Linked DNA regions of Homo sapiens: region 2 is linked to region 1. The links come from fine-mapping of genetic effects on gene expression. A gene starts in region 1. The other region holds a variant in brackets. All regions are shown on one strand. Distances are between the middles of the regions. Region 1 holds the start of MITF (melanocyte inducing transcription factor). Region 2 overlaps MITF (melanocyte inducing transcription factor).

Region 1 (2,911 bases):
TTCCCAGATTTTCTTCCCCAACTTGGATAAAGAGTCCTGCCACAGCCCTGAAGGAAATAAACCTGGCTGCACTTTCCACTAGAAAAAGAACCAGCCCAGTGCTCGCCAGAGGCCAAGATTACACCACTTGGCTCCCCGTTCAGTTGCCCTTCTCCACTCACCCTCATTTCAAGACCCTCTCCCACTCTGCCAGCCAGGCCCATTCACCCAGGCCCCATCCACAGCGAAGGGCAAGGCAGGAAGTTACAGCCGAGTGCAGAAGCCCTGCTGGATGCTTCCAATGATAGCCTTATCCTAGCTCACAGCTTAGAGGGGTGGAAATAAACCCTTCTCAGCTATTCCAGCCTCCATTGACCATGTCCCTTTTAGGAAACATTGTAAACGAGAAGTACGAGGCGTCCAGAGTGGCTGCCGGACAGAGAGAACGGAAGACACCCAATCCATTTCGACAGACAAGTGGGAATGGAGGCAGCAAAAAGGGTGGCTCAAGGGAAGTGGGCACTAGAGGGGATGGGGCATCAGAGCAGTGGATGTCTTCACTCCTCGTCTAAAAAGTTTCTGAAGTCCCCAGCGAATTAAACACGTGTCTCTGCCAAGCGGGGTACACTCCCAGTAACCCCCAAGACCAAGGCTCATTTCCCCTCTGCAGGTAAGGCCTGGATTTGAATGGGACTCTATTTCCAGAGAGTTTAACTTGAACAAGGGGACACGCCCACCGCTGCCCTGGCCCCTCCCGCGCCCGCTAGCAGCGGTCTGGAGGTGAGAGGCGGAGCCCAGAGAAACCTCACCTGCAGGAGCCCAGAGGCTAGTTTCCCCACAGAGACCGGACTCCCAAGAGGTGACTCCAAGCGAACTAATTGCTTCCCTCCAATGTCGCATCTCAGTCCACCCAAAGCTCTCCCTCTCCGAGCCCTCAACCCGCTGGGATCTTCAGAAAGGGGGTTCACTAGAACTCTTTCTCCCCCATCCCACCGGGACAGCGTCCCGGCCCGGCGCTCCTCCTCCCCCACATCGCGCCAGGTCGCTCCCCAGCCCCCAATCAGTCTCAGCAGCTGGCATCCTCGGCCGAGGGTCCCCGCGCCTGGACGCTTCGTCCCCGGCGACCCGCCGCGCCCCCGCGAAGTGCGCTCCATCCGAGCTTCCTAAAGGCGCACTTGGGCCGGGCAGGCGCGGCCCCCAACTGCGAGGGGCAGTTCGCCCTCTGCTCCGGGGCAAGGGCACTGGGTCCTTGTCCCAGAGCTCCCGCGACCCGCTCTCCTCGCCCCAGAGTGGCAGACGCAGTGCCCCCCAGCCGCCCGGTGCGCCTCTGCCCAGCTGTCACCACTCACCTGCTCTTCAGCGGTTGACTTTTGAGTTCGTAATAGGTTTTGGGCTCTTCATGAAACTCCTCCCCGACTTCGAAATCCGGCACGATCCCCGATTCGGACTGCATGGCTCCCGCTTCCCGTCCTTCCACTGCTGGAAAGTGAGAACAGAGCCCGGGGGCGGAGGGAAGGTAGCTGGGCCTGGGTCCCCCGAGCCGTGCGCCCCGGCGCAGTGCCGAGCTCTGCCCGCTCGCCGGCTCGCGGCCGCCCGCCCCAGCGCGGGGAGTTTACACTCGCACCCGGGCGGGAGGGGCTGGCGGCCGAGCGCCGCCTGGGATCTGTAGTTCGGCCCGGGCGGGGCATTCCCAGCTCGCCTGGGGAGCCGCTCCCACGAAAACTACAGCTCCCAGAAGGCCAGGCGGGGGAGAGGCAACGTGGTGGACACCGCTAGTGCAACTCCTGTTTGGATTCATTGTCAATGTCAGCAGCTCCTCTCCCTCCTCTCTCCCCACTTGCTTCAAGGGTACAGACTTGGCTACTTAATATGAATAAGAATGGACACTGACTGCTCTTCTACCATCGCCCCGACCTCTCAGCTCAGACATCTGCGAGGGCACGCCAAGTGCTTATTTTAAAAATAAAATAGTCAAGGGTTTTGGCACAAGAAAGTTTTAGCATTCGAGCCTGTCTTAAAATAAAAGGACTTCCTATCAGCTCGCATGCTTCCCTGGGCTGCTGCGACATATCAGCTTGTCCTCGGATTGGAACAACGAGGAAGAACTTTCCTTCGCTCTGTAATGAAAACGTTATTGGAGAAATTGTTCTTGTGCGTTCCTTTTCTAGAACTAAGTCTGGACTTTTACAATAGTATTCATCAGTTGAATGGCTCTTTCCCCTTTATCCAAGTAGCCACTTCTAATCTACAGCAGCAATTGAAAGATTCGGTTAATTTTAAAAGGCACAAAGTTACAAAATAGCGTCGTTGCTCTCTGCTTTTAATTTCTCAGTTGACTGGGAGTTCAAATGAGATTTGTCCTAGCATTTCAGGAGTGAAGATGTACAAGTGAACTGTACAAGTGTCCACCCCTTCCCGAGCTTCCCGGAACTCACTTAGGGAAGAGAATTTTAAAACTCTCCGTTGTGGCTCATTTGTACTTCTAGTTCTTCCCTCTGATTAGCTCCAGTAGGACGTGTTCCTTCTTTTCAAAAGTGTTTTGAGGCATCAGGGAGGCAGTATAGAGTTACAGTGGCATTTAAAGGTATAAGACTCAGAGTTGAAATCCCCAGTCCTTCTAAGAAGAGCTGTGCAATCCTGAGCATGTCACTTGGTTCCTAGAAGCCTCCATTTCTTCATCCATAAAAGAAGAGATTGGCAAACCAGTTTTAGAAGATGTTGCAAGGTCAAATGTAAGAGAAAGTGATTTGCAATCTATAAAAACTCTGCTCAGTGGTCATTCTTTATTAGGTCTTGAAGTTATTCCTTTCAGATTAACATCTCATTTTGGTGTTTGGCCTTTCAGAATTAATAAACTAAATGACTGTCCTAGGAGAAAATTCTAAAGAGGCTACAGTGACAACTGGGCACCTCCCAGGAGTTACCCCTTTGC
Region 2 (2,911 bases), 130 kb before region 1:
GAGATCATATAATCAATGAATATATTTTAGTAAGTTTCTTTCTCCACCAAATAGCTGTCTTTTTTTTTTTTTTTTGAGATGGAGTCTTGCCTCTGTCTCCCAGGCTGGAGTGCAGTGGTGCGATCTTGGCTTACTGCAACCTCCACCTCCCAGGTTCAAGCAATTCTCCTTTCTCAGCCTCCATAGTAGCTGGGTTTATAGGCCCGGGACACCATGCCTGGCTAATTTTTGTATTTTTAGTAGAGACGGGATTTCATCATGTTGGCCAGGCTGGTCTTGAACTCCTGACCTCATGATCCACCTGCCTTGTCCTCCCAAAGTGCTGGGATTACAGGCGTGAGCCACCGCGCCCAGCCAATAGCTGTCTTATAATCAATGGTGAACTGGACTCAGGGAAATACACCTGGTAGACGAAAACCGTGGCATCAGGACCAAACACGGCCCCTCAAGAGCTCAAATGAGTTACAGTTTGGTAATTCAGAAATCTAGGGATAGGAGAAACCCACTAGATAAAAAAGCAGAGGAAGAAATATTGATTCATTTAGTATCTTAAGTGAAAATCCACAGACCACAACAGATAATAGCATTAAGCCCTGGAGCCAGGATCCCTGGGTCAAATTCCTAGCCCTGTCATTTCTTAGCTGTATCACTTGGGCATGGTTTTTCACCTATCCAAGCCTCAGTTTTCTCAGCTGCAAAATGGGGGTGGAAAGACATATCTTCTTCATAGAGCAGTTGTGAAAATTAAATGTGTTAATACAAGCACAATACTTAGCATAGTTCCCACAAACCATGTGGACATGAGTAAAAGTTAGGCAATGAATTCTTCTAGTCTGTGTTTTAATTCCTGAAATGGTATCTGCTGAACATCTTAATATCTAAAAACGAGTCAAAGCTGACAAGTTACTTTCTAGGGAGCCAAAATTCTAGAATGCTGCCTTCTGCTATCATGTTCCTTTTCTTTCCTAGAGGAAAATACAAAACAATTAATTCACAGTGTGTGCTCTCCTAAAAGAATACGCACAGAAAAGTTAATGGGCAATAACTCAGTGAACAAGTTTTGTCAAACGTGTTTGTGAAGAATTTCATTCTGAGAGTGTATAAGGGAAGCATGCTCTTACGACAAGTATTTTAGTTAACTAAAAGAATGAAATTCAAAATTAAGAATTAATTTGGCTGTGAATTCAGGTTTGACATTACTACCATTCTTACGTAGAATCAGAATAGCAAGTTTCATTTGTTCATGCCATCCATTATTAATATTAAAAAATTAGTAAGTTAGAGTATATTTTTGTAGAGAATGAATCACAAAGAGTAGACATCATCTCCCCAGCTAGTATCTCATTAATAAGGCAAAAATTTATAACATTTCTAGCATAGTGACATTTTAAACACATAATTATATATACTTTGTTTAGAAAATGCTCTAACATTTTATAGAGGTGAGTAATTAAGCTGTTATGACGACATAAAGAATGAAAAAAATCT[A/C]AAGTATCTGTTAAAACAAACTGCAGCAGAAATAGAAGCTCAAGAAGTTAGAAATCATTTTTAAAACTACCTTTTATAAGACCTTTTAAAGATGTATCTACTGAAAATGATGAACTTTAACCCACACTTAAACTTATGGTAATTATATTTATATTTTTTAAGAATCAAATTCTAAAAATAGATCTGCTACATCTAGTATTTTTCCATTATTCTTGCTGTCTTTAAACACACCTTCACAAGCTGCTGAACATAATGCCTTTCTGACTTAATCAGAACCTCTCCCATGACCCAGGAACGTTCAGTAAATAATGATTAAGCTCCAGAGGTAGCTTTTGCATAAGTTGATTTGCTTGAATGCCTATTCACTTGGGGACACAGCTTTTAGCACTGTTTTCAAATCTTATCACCTAACAGTGAAAGTAAATGTTAAAGGATGTGGGGGGAACTATACTCTGTTTAGTTTTTCTCCATTTTAATATTTCTTTGAAATTGCCATTTTTTAAACTTGTTCTACATTTATATGCCAGGCAGACAATTCTGATGTTTGGATGTCTGTTTCCCCTTCCAAGAGAAAAAAATCAATATACAAGAATGCAAAGAAGATGTTCATTAATGCAACTGTTACCATTCCACAGTCAGGAAAAAAAAAAAAAAAAGGTGGGGGGAGAAACCAAAAATTCACAGTGTTTACAATGGGAGAGTTTGGACAAATGTTACTACTGTATTAAACACACAGTTTTCCTGAAGAAAATCCTGTTTTATTCATAACAAAGCTGGGCTGCAGTCTATCTTGCAATCATAAATCAAGCTCTGCTCTAACTCAGATTTTTCAAGCAGTCGCGGTATTTTTGTCATTATTAACTTAAGACCAGTATTCAATTTTAAAGGAGAGGGCAAGGATATTGGGTTAGCATTTCTATCTACCACCCCCACCCCCACCCCCAAATTAGTTGTTATCCTTGTCATAGCCACCTACCAGAGGTTACAGCTGAAGCTGATTAAAGCCAGTGAGAAGTAACAGCTTCAGTATTTTTAACTCCCAATAAACCCTTCTCTTCCTTTATCCTCCCCCTTAAAGAGAAAAAAAACTGCTCCTCTTAAGTGGTCCCGGGATTATTTCCAGAATAAAACTTCACTTACAGATACAAGCTTTCAAAGGAGCATGGCATGAACATCTGAACTCTAAGCGCCTCCATCTTTTTTCCTTTAAGGTGTTCTGCAAGCCCTTGGCGAAGAGTGAAAGTCAAAGTTAGTTCTGGCACTGGCTGTGTCACTAGGGGTGGCTCCTGATAAGGCCCTGGAAACTCCAATCCAAACACAGCTCTGTGCTAGAACGGTGCCTGGTTTCTGTCTGCAACAGCAGACCTGTTTAATCCAGTACCTACTGTACCTGCAGGACAAAAACGCTGCCTCACACCACAAT

What was found.
Region 2: its variant is fine-mapped to the expression of MITF in thyroid (GTEx, PIP above 0.99). The same link has a PIP of 0.9 or more in lung.

What each region holds. Positions count from the first base shown.
Region 1 is chr3:69,738,119-69,741,029 of GRCh38, reverse strand. It overlaps MITF (melanocyte inducing transcription factor), which reads right to left and starts at 1,566. Exons shown (of 10, transcript NM_001354604.2): 1 at 1,329-1,566. The coding sequence starts at 1,432. RefSeq lists a silencer at 1,331-1,630 and a promoter at 1,430-2,911.
Region 2 is chr3:69,866,064-69,868,974 of GRCh38, reverse strand. The region is part of intron 1 of MITF (melanocyte inducing transcription factor); the gene reads right to left. Among named protein-coding and RNA genes, the nearest start is that of MITF, 130 kb to the right of the region's middle. RefSeq lists a cis regulatory region at 2,782-2,883 and a promoter at 2,697-2,911. The variant A/C (reference allele first, on the strand shown) is at 1,489.